3 separate regions of the Homo sapiens genome follow, and regions 1 and 2 are each linked to region 3. Evidence: fine-mapped expression QTL. A gene starts in region 3. Each other region holds a variant in brackets. All regions are shown on one strand. Distances are between the middles of the regions. Region 1 holds the start of FAM200C (family with sequence similarity 200 member C). Region 2 overlaps FABP6 (fatty acid binding protein 6). Region 3 holds the start of CCNJL (cyclin J like).

Region 1 (5,226 bases), 89 kb before region 3:
GCCTTCTTCTTGGAGTATTTAGTAATTATGACTAATGGACAGAAGAAATGTGCATTCTAAAGCATTTTAGAGTTATTGGCATGTTGACCGGAAAGAATTGCCTTCTAGCTCCGTAGTTTGTAAGTTTTGGCAAGTCCTTGAGAAAAGTCAGAATTGTAGTCTCTACCAGAAGCATCATTTGTGAGCTTGTATAAGTAAAGTGAACCTCATTTAATTTTTGTTATTAAATAAAATTTCTTCAACATTGATTTAAAATGTTATAGAATGTTTTGTGCTGTATAAAAATATCATATAAGCCAAATAGTGATTAGTTGTAGCTTGACAGTAGAAGGGCTGACTCCAAAGCTCTTTCAGGCAATCTGCGTTTTTGATAGAGCAGTTCATATTCAGTGGGGTGTGTTGGTACTCTGCCACTTTTGAAGAAAAGACATCTGATGTAGAGCTGTGATACACATTTTATTCCTCTCACTATAGGCACTGAACGCAGAGGAGGCCCGCCTTCTTCATGTCAAGGAGACCATGCAGATTGATGAGAGGAAGCGGCCTTACAATAGCATGTATGAAACTCGAGAACCTACTGAAGAGGAAATGGAGGCATATAGAATGAAACGTCAGAGGCCAGATGACCCCATGGCCTCTTTCCTTGGACAGTAGCAACTAGTCAGAAGACCATCCAAGATAGATGCAGCTGATACATTCTTTTCAGCTTCTTATTGATGATTGTAGATAGAAAAATCCTTGTTTATTCTTCTTGCTGCCTGGCTTTAATAAATATTTCAGATGCCTCACAGTAAGTTCACTCCTTTCCATACTGAGGAAACAAGAAAAGAAGAAGAGGCACATGAAGTGTGCTTTTGGGAATAGAATTTAAAATTGGATTAAGATTTTATTTCCAGTTTTTTTTATTTATTTATTTTTTTTTTTGAGACGGAGTCTTGCTCTGTCGCCCAGGCTGAAGTGCGGTGGCGCGATCTCGGCTCACTGCAAGCTCCACCTCCCAGGTTCACGCCATTCTCCTGCCTCAGCCTCCCTAGTAGTTGGGACTACAGGCGCCCGCCACCATGCTCAGCTAATTTTTTGTATTTTTAGTAGAGACGGTTTCATCGTGTTAGCCAGGATGGTCTCGATCTCCTGACCTTGTGATCCACCCGCCTCAGCCTCCCAAAGTGCTGAGATTACAGGCGTGAGCCACCGCGCCTGGCCTATTTCCAGTTTTATGTGAGTCATGTAAAAAAGCCTTGGCTCTCTACCTATTAAGAATGTCTCTTTCTCTGTATTTATTAAGCTTCAAACTTTATTGCTTCGATTTTTGTGGCCCTATATTTAGTATTAGCACACCTTGGTTTTGAGAAAAAAACAGGGCTTTGTTTTTTTAAATAATTACTAGCAACTCTGTGACTACATTTATTTTTATTTTTTTTAGAGACAGGATCTTGCTATGTTGCCCAGGCTAGAGAGCAGTGGCTTTTCACAGACAAAGTCATAATGCCCTGCAGTCTTGGGCTCAAGCGATTCTCTCTTCCTTGGCCTCTGGAGTAGACTAAATGTGTTAGTCTTTGAATGGAAAACAACTATTTTCTCATCATTGGGTCAATATTGACTGATCAGTAGTAGGTCTTTTACCATTCTGGACATAAGTCTAGGTGTAGAAATCCTTTCCTTTATCATAGAGGATATGGTTTACATTACCGTTTGTTTTCATTGTGATTGCCCCTATGTAACAATCATGAATATTAGATTTTTTAAATTGTAGAATATCCTAATATTTATAGCCAGCAGCTGTTACTTTGTTTGTAAAATTTGCAAAAAAACAAAACCTGAAGTTGGTTTATTGAAAGAATTATAAGGATAGCTTCTAGGGATATTAGTAATAGATTGCCATGATCCTGAAGCCTCTTCTCAGAACACTGTGAAGATAATACTGACAGTAGAATCAGTGAAAACAGCCTAACAAAACCTCTGACATCAGTATATCAACTTTTAACAGCCCACTCACTGGCTTTTCTAAACTACCAAAAACCACCTGTAGGATACTGCATTAAGTCAGCATCTCAGAAACAGTGGTGTGAGTAACTGAGTCAAATTGTCAAGTACTTTGGATATACATAGTGTCGAGCTTTAGATTGGTATGAAATTAAACAGCAATGCAAATAGATTTAATTCCTATTTACTTTAAGAATGAAAAACAATGTTCATTTTCCTACCTAAACAGGGTGGTTCAACATAAAGGCTGATGTTGTGTCCGTTTTGTATTTTATCTTTTGTTAAAGATACATAAATGACAATACTTAACTGTGAGTGGTTTGTAGCATTATTT[C/T]TAATATTTGGCAGAAAAGTTGTTTATGGGACAGGGAGGGGAACCTGGATTAGCTTCTGTGAGTTTAAGAAAATTTCAGCATCTTGTCACCTAACCTTTCTGGACCTCTTTCCCTCTTCTATGAGGCCTGGTTTACTTAGATTTAGGAAGAATTCTGTAATATCCAGAATCATGTCTTCTGTTTTATTTTGGAAAAGTAATGCCTAGCCAGCCTGGCCAACATAGCAGAGCCCTGTCTCTATGAAAAATACGAAAATTAGCTGGGCATGGTGGCACACGCCTATAATCCCAGCTACTCAGGAGGCTGAGGCATGAGAATTGCTTGAACCCGGTTCAAGAAGTTACAGTGAGCTGAGATTGCGCCACTGCTCTCCAGCCTGGGCAACAGAATGAGACCCTGTCTCAAAAAAAAAAAAAAAAAAAAAAGAAAAAAACATAATGCCTAGGACATTACTCAGATTGAGCTTTGATTTTATTATCTCAATAATAGCTGCCTTTTGAGTGCGAGAATTATGTACTGTAATTGTCATAATGTTATCTCCTTCCTCAAAAGAATTTCATGGGGTAATGGATGATATGTAAGTTTTACAAAAAGCACATGGAATTAACTCCAAGTAACCTGCACAAATCCTAACCGTTGGAGTCAGGACATGAAGCTAGCTGTGGGATTCTGAAGCCTACCCCTTTCTCTAGTATTGAAGGCCCTAATTTCTTGACCAACAAGGCTGGTCTTTAGCAGTTTCTTCCATCCACAAAAAACTTCAGCAGCCCGTCAATATTTACCAGGCTCACCCTTAACACCTGAAAATGATGTATCTGGCCCACATTCGTTGACGCCCCACCACTCCTCACACACACTAGTCTTATGGAATGCTTCTAACAAGATTGTACAAAAATGAGTAAACTCATTAAGTTTATAAGAATTCTGGAAAGACCCCCAAACAGGAAAGGGCTATATTCCGGTTTCTTTCAACAACGTTTCCTAGTTTCTACTTGGGATTTTTCTCTAAAACCTCTCTAATATGGGTTTATTTCTTTGAAATCATGTTGTTGAAAGAATTTAAAATAAAAATATTTCAGATATATGATGATGACATGGAAATTCATCCCTATGCTCCCACTTACGGAAAGTGGGATCAGCTTGCATAGGCAACAGTACACAAGCTATGGAAGCTCATCCTCCACTGCTGAAATGTCTAATCTGAAATTACAATGAGCTTCCTTCTCTTTTTCTCTCATTTATTCCACATGGAACATGGCAATTATCAGGCGTTTTATCTCCAAGCTCAAAGCCCGACACAATATAAAAGTTTAAGTGCTCTGCATGTTAAAAAGAACTATGTGGAGTTTACAGCCCCTTCCATTCCTGAAATTGTACAGTTCATCCTCTCTGGCAGACACAATAAACAAACGATTTCTTGTTCCACGTACACAATCTTAAAAAAAAAATTGGGAAGGGCTAGCGCGCATGCTCAATACTCAAGCCAGCCAGCCCATCCCACAGCCCTTTGCTACTGCGCCTGCGTGTGGGAGACGCCTCTCCCAGTTTGCGGGCGGGAAGCACCCTGGAGAACCCGGATGGAACCCGGGCCTGGCTGAGGCGGAGGTTGTTGCGGATGCTTCTCTCTCCAGGCGCACCGCAGATTCCTGCCCGGGGGTTGGACCCGAGGAACCGCCGTCTCTACTGGTTCCGACGGCCAGAGGCTGGGCCCTAGGCTGAGCGGAGAGTGGGACTGGAGCCTGAAACGGGCGCCTAAAAGAAGCCCGTGCATCCCATAGGCCTGCGCCTCAGGCTTGGAGACGGGCGGGCGGAGACCGCGCTGAGTCTTTTTTTTTTTTTTCCTAGCAGCTGGCGTTCTTATCTCACCCGGGAGGCTGTAAAAATCTCCGTCCTTAACAGTAACACCATCAGGTCCTATCAGTTAAGAGCTGCTTGTTATTTGCATGCATTCTTATAATTAAATCTCCTAACAACCCTGTAAGGTAGGTACTGTTATCCCCTCTGGAGGAACTGAGGCTTGGAAAGGTCCCATCCTGTAAGTGACAAAGCCACGATCCCAGGCGTTTGCCCCTGGAGCGTCTGCCCAGCCACCAAGTTCCTGCCCCCATTCTCCTGGCTATTGATTTTAACTGTAAAATGTAATGGTTAAATGCTCTGCCTCCCCAGACACCTGCGCCTATCATGATCTTGCATACGCAGTGGCTAGAAAGAAGTTGAATTGTATTTGGTTTGGAGTTTTAGGTTTACAGCTGCACTTTGGTGTTTTCACTGCTGGAATATATATATATTAGCATTCCCTAAATATTTGTTTTGTGAGTGTTCACTTTTAACTGATTTTTCTCATTTGTAATACTTTTTCATATCTACCCTTCATAAACTTGCAAAAACATTTTACTTTGTTATATCAGATCTTTCATTAAGCATCTGAAGATAATCTCTCAAAAGAATCATGCTTAAAATGAGTGATATCTATCTTAAGATAATGCTTTTTATCTTTTTATTATGGAAAGTTTCCAAAATACATTAAAATAGAACGGTGTAATGATGTATACCCATCATCCAGCTTCAAGAGTTACCAACTTAAGGCCAGTCATTTCTTTTATCTCCACCCCGCTTTGTGCATGTTTGTGAGTGTGCTGAAGTACGTATTTCAAAGGAATCCCAGACATCTTATTTCACTTGTAAATAATTGTCTGTATCTAACAAATGAGGACTTTTTAAAAACACAACCACAATACCATTATCATGCCTGTTTAACAATATCTCCTTATCATGATGCTTTTTAATGTTTACGTTTTTTAGGATATTGTAATTCCTAAATACCACAAAAGCGCAAGTGCAAATTGTGAGGTTCTAAAACACAAGCCTCTTGGGCAGTAAGTTCATCTTTGAGGCCCTTGAAAATTCT
Region 2 (5,226 bases), 78 kb after region 3:
TTTTTTTTTTTTGTATTTTTAGTAGAGACCGGGTTTCACCATGTTGGCTGGGCTGGTCTTGAACTTCTGACCTCAGGTGATCCACTTGCCTCAGCCTCCCAAAGTGCTGGGATTAGAAGCTTGAGCCACCACACCCAGATAATTTTTAGATTATTTAAACAAAAATGTTAAAGGGGGATAAAAAGACCCGTGGGCCTGGGCAGAAGAGGCAGGGGGCCTAGTCTAGAAGTCAGCAGATGAGATCTGCCTCTGCATGTACTAGTTGTGTGGCCACGGCCAAGTCCCTTGCTGTCTCTGAGCCTTGTAATGCTGCTCTGTAAAATAAGTATAATGGGAGGGCACGGAACCTCTTGGGCCATCTTATGGACTGCGCGTGTGTCCCCCCACCAAACCCATATGATAAAGGTCAAAGCCCCAGTGTGATGGTATTTGGAGATAGGACCTTTAGGGGGTAATTAAGTTATGAGAGTGGAGTCCCCATGAAGGATTAGTGCCCTCATAACAACAGACACAAGGCCTGGTGCAGTGGCTCACACCTGTAATCCCAGCACTTTGGGAGACCAGGGTGGGCAGATCACTTGAGGTCAGGAGTTCGAGACCAGCCTGGCCAACATGGTGAAACCCTGTCTCTACTAAAAATACAAAAATTAGCCAGATGTGATGGTGGGCTCCTGTAATCCCAGCTACTTGGGGAGGCTGAGGAAGGAGAATTGCTTGAACCTGAGGGCGGAGGTTGCAGTGAGCCAAGATCATGCCACTGAACTCCAGCCTGGACAACAGAGCAAGACTCTGTTTCGAAAAAAAAAAAAAAAACAGACATGAGAGAGATGACGTCTCCCTGCCATGTGAAGAAACCAGGACGGGGGCCCTCATAAGCCCCTGACCATGCTGGCACCCTGATCTTGTACTTTCCTGCTTCCAGAGCTGTGTGAAATAAGTGTCTGTGGTGTAAATCATTTACACCACAGTGTCTGAGAGAGGCAGTGTGCTCCTTTCCTCTTGACAGGGCTTGAGATGTGGGCACAAGAAAGCGAGAATGAGAGAGAGAGAGAGAGAAGGATCAAAGAAGGAGAAGCAAAGGGGTCACACAAACACTGCCTCCCTCATCATGTCTTCCCTGCTGGAGAGCTTCAGGGAGGAGGGAAGGGCCCTTTCTAGACCTACACGGGACCCCAGAGGGTCTCTGGCCCAGGTCACAGGCTCACAGTGAGGGAATGAAGTATGGAAATGCCTTCTTTTCCCTTTTAACCTCACGTTCATTCCTTCCACCTGGGGAAAACTTGGAGACCCACGGGAAAGCAACAGAAGTGAGAGGAAGGGCCTCCCAGGGCACCACCTCCAGTGTAGGAGGAGTGGGTCCCCAGATGTGTGTGTGGGACCTGCCAATATTTACAGAATTTTTTTAATTAGTTGCCAATATTTAATAGTGTGGAGATTTCACACGGAAGTGCAAATTTCCAACTTCTCTTGATAAATCAGAAGATCTGGTAGAAGGGGCCTGATGTCCCTCATGGAAAAGGAATGGAGTGGTGGCTGTCCTTTGAGGAGCCCACCTGGACCACCTCCTTTATTTATATTCTGGGAAGGATCTTCCGGGCTTCCAGTCTCGTGTCCCAGAAGCGGTTGAGTGTGAGTGCTGCAGTCAGGCTACTTAGCATCAAACCTCAGCTCTGTCGTCAAATCTGTGTGCTCCCTCACTTATCCCTGTGCTTCAGTCTCCTCAAATGGAGATAAAAATCCCCACCTAACAGGGTTATTTTGAAGACCAAATGACATCATGTGCATCCAGCACTCAGCATAGAGCCTGGTACAAGGGAAGTGCTGGTAAAGCCAGCTGCGTAGAGGCCTACTTCTGAGGGGCTGTGGCCAAGAGGCAGACAAATATCCAATAATCATCCCAGGAATCAGCATGACACTCACCTCCACCAGCTTGTCACCCACGATCTCTGAGGTCTGGTGATAGTTGGGGAAATTCACCACCAGCTTCCCGCCCTCCATCTGCACAGTGGCCTGGAATGGAAGCACAACATTAAGCCTGGGTTGTTGCAGGTGATTGGCAACTATCTGGGGCTGGTGGCGCGG[G/A]CAGTAAGAAGAATTTACCAAGGCCAGGCACGGTGGCTTATGCCTATAATCCCAGCACTTTGGGAGACTGAGGCAGGCGGATCACTTGAGGTCAGGAGTTCGAGACCAGCCTGGCCAACGTGGTGAAACCCCGTCTCTACTAAAAATACAAAAAGTAGCCCGGTGTGGTGGCTCATGCCTGTAATCCCAGCTACTTGGGAGGCTGAGGCGTGAGAATCACTTGAACCCGGGAGGCAGAGGCTGCAGTGAGCAGAGATCGTGGCACTGCGCTCCAGCCTGGGCAACAGAGCAAGACTCTGTCTCAAAAAAAAAAAAAAAAATGAATTTACCAAGACAGTTGTAGGTAAAAAAAAAAAAAAAAAAAAAAGTCAGATTTCTTAGAGAAAGTATGAAAATATGTTGCAAGGGTGCACTGGGCAGGACAGCAAGAGAGGAGCTGACTGCAAGGAGACAAAGTCTTGCTGGAGAGTTTATAGACTGTTGCTTATGCTGTGTGCTGAAGCGGGTTTTGTGCAGTACTGACAAAGCAAAGGTTATGGTGAGATAACTTACATTTTTCTATCAGTGGAGGTGATGATAGCTGGGCACAGGAAGATTGTGAGTTATTTGCACAGGAGGGCTATGTGTTCTGGACCATGAAGAAAGGCAGACTTACAGCTTATCTGCTCTCCTTTTTTGCTTTACCCTGCTGCCGCCAACCTGACTCCTTTTCTATTATTAGAACTCCACATGGGTCACCAGAGGCCTAATGATAGAGGCAAATAGCTGGGGTTCAAATCCCTGGTCCCACCATGTTCTAGCTGCAAGGCCCTAGACACATTACTTGGTCTCCCTGAGCCTCGGTTTCTTCACTTCTTTTTTTTTTTTTCTTTTTTTGAGACGGAGCCTCGCCCTGTTGCCCAGGCTGGAGTGCAATGGTGTGATCTCGGCTCACTGTAACCTCCGCCTCCAGGGTTCAAGCGATCTCCTGCCTCAGCCTCCCGAGTAGCTGGGATTACAGGCACCGGCCACCACGCCTGGCTAATTTTTGTATTTTTTGTAGAGACAGGGTTTCACCATATTGGCCAGTCTGGTCCTGAACTCCTAACCTCGTGATCTGCCTGCCTTGGCTTCCCAAAGCGCTGGGATTACAGGCGTGAGCCACCGTGCCCGGCCAGTTTCTTCACTTCTAAAACAAAAGCAAATGACTGCATTTTTTCTTCTAGCATTCATTATGTGGCAGGCAACATGCCAGGTGCTTTCATGCACTGTCTTGTTTAATCTTCACCACAGCTCTTGGAGCTAGAGATTGTATGTAGTCTCCTTTTGCATACTAGAGATATGAGGCTCAGGGGAGTGAAATGACTTGCCCAAGGCCCTACAATTGCTGGTGGGAAATCATGGTTTCAAACCCAGCCAAGGCTCACTCCAGGGCCCAGTGTCTTTATCTCTGTGCTACACAGAGAGGCAGCATAAAAAAAGCACTTATGGCTGGGCACGGTGGCTCACACCTGTAATCCCAGCACTTTAGGAGGTCAAGGTGGGCGGATCACAAGGTCAGGAGTTTGAGACCAGCCTGGTCAACATGATGAAACCCTATCTCAGCTAAAAATACAAAAATTAGCCAGATGTGGTGGTGCACGCCTGTAATCCCAGCTACTCAGGAGGCTGAGGCAGGAGAATCGCTTGAACCCAGGAGGCAGAGGTTGCAGTGAGCCGAGATCATGACACTGCACTCCAGCCTGGGTGACAGAGTGAGTCTCGAATAAAAAAAAAAAAACACTTATGCTCTCTAGTGCCTGGTGTAAAGGCCTGCCCCTGTTGTGTAACTAAGGCAAGGTTTTTTTTATTTTTATTTATTTATTTTTTTGTGTGATGGACTCTCACTCTGTCGCCCAGGCTGGAGTGCAGTGGCATGATCTCAGCTCACTGCAACCTCTGCCTACTGGATTCAAGCGATTCCCCTGCCTCAGCCTCCTGAGTAGCCAGGATTACAGGCATGCACCACTATGTCCAGCTAATTTTTGTATTTTTGGTAGAGATGGGGTTTCACCATGTTGGCCAGGCTAATCTCAAAATCCTGGCCTCGAGCCATCCACCCACCTCGGCCTCCCAAAGTGCTGGGATTACAGGCATGAGCCACTGTGCCTGGCCAGCAAGCTTTTTAATCTCATGATTTAGCCTCCCCGATCAATCTGGAGAGAGTAATTGTAGCAATTTCATAGGATTAACTGCATTAAGATGGAAAAACTATTCAGCAAGTGTCTAGCTTATAATAAGTGTCCAGCAAGTATTAGCTATTTTTCTTATTGTTTTAGTGCCCATGTTTGACCATTAAAAATCAGGAGCATTAAATTGCCAAGTAACTCAAGCTCCTAATGCTGGAGGCCAAACTGGAGAAAGAAGCCTCAGCTCGGGAGCGGGGAGGCCATGTTTGAGAAGGAGAAGTCAGATGGAGGCCTGGGGAAGGAGGGGGACAGCCAGTGGCCTCTCACCTTGAACGTCTTGCCCCCCATTGTCTGTATGTTGCTTTCCTTGCCAACAGTGAACTTGTTGGTCATGGTGTGGCCCCCGGAGTAGTGCTGGGACCAAGTGAAGTCCTGCCCATCCTGCTGCACCTCCGTGACGATCTTGAAGTTGCGGGCCTTTTCGATTACATCGCTGGAGATCCCTGGACCCGGGGACAAGCAGAGTAGCCATATAAGAGCTGCTTTTAACCCTGTGGTTTGGGAAAAGAGCTTTCCTGCCCACCCCCACCGCCCTACCCCCTTGTGCATGATAGGCTAGCCTGCAGGTTAAGAGCACAGTGCCTGAGACAGCTAATACGTGCTGTGAGCCATGTGGCTGGGGAAAGTCCCTATCTCTCTGAGCTTCAGTCTATTCATCCACAATATGGAGATAATAAGGCCCATCCCAAAAGGCTGTTACAAGAATTATATTCAATGTGAGTGTGTTTGTGAAGCTCCTGGCACATGGTGGGTGCTCATCAATAATAACCAAGCTTCTGATAGTAATATAAATATAACTGAATCTTGCCAAGCTCGCGAAGTTCTGGAATGAATGAGACTTTCAAGACCAGGTATGGTGGTTCATGCCTGTAATCCCAGCTCCTTGAGGGCCCGAGGCAGGCAGATCGTTTAAGGTCAGAAGTTCGAGACCAGCCTG
Region 3 (5,226 bases):
ATGCTAGGGAGTATGAGCATTTTAAAAATAACATCTATCCATATGAATTCCTTCTCTGACGGCATACCTACTCATGTCTTGCATCCATTTCTGCACGTAGGGTGTTAATGTTTTACATACCGATTTATCAGAGGTCTAGAAAGTAGCATCAACCTTTTGTCACATTTGTTAAAAATATTTTCTCAAATTTGTCGTTTGCCTTTTTGGCAATGATAATTGATGTATCTAGATCCTGCATATTTATTCAAATTTGTCTACTCACCTTGCCTTTGGTTTCTTCCCATGTCTTAGTATCTAGGCCTTCCCCTCCGTATAATTCGTGTATGTTTTCTTCTTATCCTCTTGTGATTTGCTTGTTTGTAGTTCTCTGAGTTCTTATATTTATTTTGGTGATATTTAAACAAGTCCTTAGTTTTACTTTTTTCCCCCAACCTAATTTATTAAATAATTTAGCCGTTTATACTTGTCCCAACAAAGTGAAATGCCACATTTATCATACAGTGAATTTTTAAATATATTAAATTTTCCTAGACTTTCAGTTATTCCACTGATGCTTAATCCATCCATTCTTGTGTGAACACTACACTGTTTTAACTATAGTGTTGCAATATGCTTTAAGATTTGATAATACAGGTCTGTCCCCCCAGTTTTTTTGTTCGTTTGTTTGTTGAGACGGAGTTTCACTCTTGTTGCCCAAGCTGGAGTGCAGTGGCACGATCTCGGCTCACTGCAACCTCCGCCTCCCAGATGCAAGTGACTCTCCTGCCTCAGCCTACCAAGTAGCTGGGATTACAGGCGTGCACCACCACACTCGGCTAATTTTTTGTATTTTTAGTAGAAACAGGGTTTCACCATGTTAGCCAGTTTGGTCTCAAACTCCTGACCTCAGGTGATCTGCCTGCCCTTGGCCTCCCAAAGTGTTGGGATTACAGGCGTGAGCCACCGCGCCCCGCCATCCCCCCATTTTTAAAATATAAATTTCTTAGCTTTTCTCGCAGATATTCTCCCATTTGAAGGTTAGAAAACATGTTAAGTGCCCCCTCCTCCAATCTACCCACAACCATTAAAATTTTATTAAATAGAGTAATTTGGGTTAAGTTGGTGTTTGTGCCTCTATTCCTTCAAGCCTTCTTTATTATGTTTCAACCTTTGTAATGTCTTCATTAAGAGCCTGCACATTTATTCAGTTTATTTTTAGGTATCTTACACTTTTAAAATGGTTCGTTTGTTTTACATTAAAACTGCTCTTCAAGGTCCAATTGAAGCTTATCAAAGCTGATTTAATTTTTTTTTCCCAGGTGTGTCTTTATGTGCAGGAAAGCAGTCAGAAACTAAAGGCTCTTCAGTCACAGTTGTTTACTGAGTGTTCACTTAATACCTGGTGTAGTGATTATCCCTTTACACGCATTATCTCCTTTAATTTTCAGCAGGTTGGTTTAACTTTTATTTCCATTTTACACACGAGGCTCTGAGTTTGAGGAACTTGACAAAAATCACCCAGTTGGTAAGTGGATTTGATTCCAAATTTGTGAATCTCCAAAACTATCACAAAAATCAATCAGCCAAGAAGGATAGCCCAATGCTATGCCATCAGATGGGCTGACTCAAAAGGATGACTTTCCAAAAGCAAGCAATTGAATTAAAAAGACAATGTTTTCCATCCACCGGACCCGGCAAAAAAAGACTGGTTTTCCTCCAATGTGAGGCATAGTTCATATTCTGCAGGAGCACAATAATACCAGTGACTTAGGCTCCTTTAGAATTAGGGACTCGTGGGTGAACAAGGGTGGTTTTTCTGCAGCTTTCACTGGAATTGTCCGTTTGGAAATCTACCTCCCCATGGCAGGGCGGGTTTCAAAGAAGAGGAGAACAAACAAAAAACAAAAACAGGAAAAAAAAAAAAAGAGAGAGAGAAAGAAAAACAGGTGGAACCGACGTAAGGATGGCTAGAGCAGTGCGCGCGGAAGGCAGAACTTTCTGGGGGCGTCCTGTCCGCACGTTTCACGCGTGGTGCGCGCAGGTGGCGCCGCGGTCCCTTTGCTCCCTGCGCAAGCCGGAGGGGTGCCCAGAAGGCTACCACTAGCCTCAGCGAAGGTGAGAGAGAAGCTTTCCGCCGAAGCGAGGGAGGAGGGCGGGCAGGAAGCGGAGCCAGAGCTGGCAAAGAAAGGCTCCAATTCCCAGCCCCCCGCCCCGCGGGGCGCGGGGGCGCCGGCAGCGCATGCGCGAGGCCCGGCCCCCAATTCCCCCAGCGAGGGAGGGAGGCCCCCGGCGGCCGGGAGCCTGCGAGCCGCGGCGGGACCCGAGCGCACGCAGGGGCGCGGCGACGGCGGGGGCTAGTCGGGCTGCGGAGGCGGCCGTCGGGAGTGCGGAGCGCCTCGGACGAGGGTCCAACCGCCGGCAGGCACCAGAGGGCACGGCTGGCTCGGCACTGGGAGGGGCCCGGCGCTCGCAGCCCCCCACGCCCAGAGAGGATGCGTGAGTTTCGCCCCGGCTCGAGGGCAGGATGTGGGAGCAGGACAAAGGCTGGGCGGCGGGGGAGGAGTTGGGGACGGCGAGCCTGTGGCCGCCGCCAGAGCCCCAGCCTCGAGCGAGCTAGCGGAGTTGACAACTTTCTCTGCAACTTTTGCAAAAGGGAAGATAAAAATTCTGCAAGTTGTTGCACAGCTCCATATCGCCCCGTGTCCGGCGAGCAGAGGGGAGGGGGCACCGCAGCCTTCCGCGGACCAGAGGCGACCTCCAGCTCCTCTGAGCGGCGCAGGAGGGGGCGCCCGCCGGGGCCCGGGGCCAGGGGCGAGAGAGGATAGGGACACCGGGGGTCGGAGCCCGGGGTACGCTCTGGCCGCTGAAGTTGCCCGTGTCCACGCAGGGTGCGCCCTGAGAGCCGGGTAGCCTCGGATAGCGGCGCTGCGTACGCGATGATGGATGAGCCGTGGTGGGAAGGGCGCGTCGCCTCGGACGTCCACTGCACCCTGCGCGAGAAGGTCAGTCCCTCCCTGCCCTTGTCACTCTCAAGACTGGGTACAGTCTCCTTCGGTCTCGACTTCGTGTTCTCAGGTCGCCTGCGTGGGAACTCAGAACTCCCGGGTGCCTTTTTTTCCTCTTACCCTTTACCTTCTCCCGGAGTGTCTGAGCGGAATTGGGGGGCGGGGGTTAGAGACTGGAGATGGGAGAGATTGAAGTTGGTTTTTCTGATAAGGAGCTCAGAACTCTGGGCCAACTAGTCAGAGACAGCCACTGTACCTCTAAGGCAGTGTTTCCTATAGTATTGCCACCCTAGGTTATTTTAAACCGTACGTGAAGGGGTCTTTAAAAAATATTGTGTATTCATTCTAATGTGTAATTTAAGAATGTGTATGTATCTAGCAAGCTCTGCGTTTGCGATTTTCCATTTATTGTAATAATGATGTCGCAGTTTATTTTAAAACAAATTTAAGTAAAAGTAGTAACTCTATATAAAGATAAGTGGTAGTACAGGGAATACATGGTTATGGCCAAATACGTGTATCTATGTGTATATCTAGAATGGGACCGAATGAAATTTAAGGAACACCTGTATAATTGAAAGAGGCTACAAAACAGGGAGGCTGAGGGAAGAAAACAAAAACTCCCCTGCCGGTTTGCCTCCTGTGGCAGAAGGTGGGTGGGAGCAGCTGAAATGTGATCCCTGCACACCCCTCCCCTCAAGGAGAGAAGGGCTGAGGGGCATTGGGAAGGTGGAAGAGTCCAGGTGGGCTGGAGGCATGGCCTGTGTGTCTTGCCTCCAGTCCCTGGGCTGAGATTGGCAAGGGGTGGCTTGGGGAACAGGTGTGAAGTAGTGAATGGATTGGTTTCCTAGGGCTGCCATTACAAAGGACCACACAAACTGGAGGGCTTAAAGCAACAGAAATTTATTTCAGCTCTGGAAGCTGAAGATCCCAGATCAAGGTGTTAGCAGGGCCATGACTCTCAAAAGGCTCTAGAGAAGGATCTTTCCTTCTTCCTTCTTAAATTTGCTGGTGCTTGGTCATCCTTGGCATTCCTCGGCTTGTAGGTACATCATTCCAGTCTCTGCCTCCACTGTCACATGGTGCTATCTGTCTGTCTGTTTTCTCTTCTTACAAGGATACCCGATCATTGGAGTAGAACCCACCCTAATCCAATGTGATGTCATCATAATTTAATTACATCTGAAAAGACTCCATTTCCAAGTAAGGTCACATTCTGAAGTTCCAGATTAACATGACATTTGGGGGGACACTACTGCGCCCAATACAGGGAGGAAAAGGTCTTCCTAGTGCAGTACCTGAGCCCCCACACAGGTTTCACAGTCAGTGCATTTGCTCCGAGTGTCTGGAGGAGTTCTGCTTAAAGGGTCACCAGCTACTCAGTGTTTTTACCTCATTGAGTAGCTGTCTTCCTGTCCAATTAATGCCTTTTTCTTTTCTTTCTGTACCTGCTGACCTGTCTTTGTCCTGCGTTGCTTGGCAAGGCTGTGGCTTTCATCTGTTCCCTTGGTCTTCTTCCCAGAACAGAGTGGCCAACGTGTGGCACATTCTAGGCATCTGGACAAGAAGAAATCCAGGTCTTGTTGGTTCAGTTGAAAAGCAAGGAAAGTGGTAGGGGTATGGTCCTGGCCCTTTTCTGGAGGAGGTGGCTGAATGGAGCTAGTGAGGACTGCCGTGGAAATTGGGCTTCCTTGTTTATCATAGACTCAAGTGGTTGTCATTTCTGCTCATAGCTTAGGAGGAACGACTTCTACCTGATTTGCCCCTTTCTAGAGGGAAGGATTTCTAAGAGCAATAAATGCCATTTGTTTAGTTACCTGAGAATGCCCAACCTTTTATACATAAGGGAGGATGTCCTAAATGTTCCTTCGGCTGCTCAAAGAAGCAAGAAAGGCTCCATGAACTGCTATAGCCATGTCATAGTGCCGTATGAGTTTACTATTGGGCTGCCCACCTCGGAGAGACGATGAGTTTGTCCCAGTTTTGCAGGTTAGAAATAGAAAGCTCACCCAAGGACTGATGGCCAAGGTCAACCTTGACTTAAAGCTGGCCTTATTAGGACAAATCCCAAGTTCCTTTGGTTATAATGTCCCACCTCCTCAAAATACTGCTATTGTTCTCCTTTACTTTATTTCCTCTCCCACTTCAAAGAAGAAAATGCTTCTTCAAAAATTTGGCTTCATGGAGTTTGGCAAGAAGAGTGAAGAATAGGGGAACTTAGTAGCCATACTAGCCTCGCCTT

What was found. PIP is the estimated chance that this variant, and not a neighbour inherited with it, causes the effect. A credible set is the group of variants that fine-mapping cannot tell apart.
Region 1: its variant is the best candidate, but not a certain one, in a credible set for the expression of CCNJL in whole blood (TOPMed, PIP 0.52).
Region 2: its variant is the best candidate, but not a certain one, in a credible set for the expression of CCNJL in left ventricle (GTEx, PIP 0.61).

Annotation. Positions count from the first base shown.
Region 1 is chr5:160,398,713-160,403,938 of GRCh38, reverse strand. It overlaps FAM200C (family with sequence similarity 200 member C), which reads left to right and starts at 3,885. Exons shown (of 2, transcript NM_022090.5): 1 at 3,885-4,300. It overlaps SLU7 (spliceosome associated SLU7), which reads left to right. Exons shown (of 16, transcript NM_006425.5): 16 at 475-2,298. The coding sequence ends at 654. RefSeq lists enhancers at 4,196-4,345, 4,239-4,924. The variant C/T (reference allele first, on the strand shown) is at 2,318.
Region 2 is chr5:160,231,604-160,236,829 of GRCh38, reverse strand. FABP6 (fatty acid binding protein 6) reads right to left here. Exons shown (of 4, transcript NM_001445.3): 2 at 4,557-4,732; 3 at 1,921-2,010. Among named protein-coding and RNA genes, the nearest start is that of FABP6, 4.7 kb to the right of the region's middle. RefSeq lists a silencer at 3,381-3,430. The variant G/A (reference allele first, on the strand shown) is at 2,083.
Region 3 is chr5:160,309,613-160,314,838 of GRCh38, reverse strand. It overlaps CCNJL (cyclin J like), which reads left to right and starts at 2,275. Exons shown (of 6, transcript NM_001308173.3): 1 at 2,275-2,475; 2 at 2,867-2,981. The coding sequence starts at 2,916. RefSeq lists silencers at 2,057-2,116, 2,227-2,346.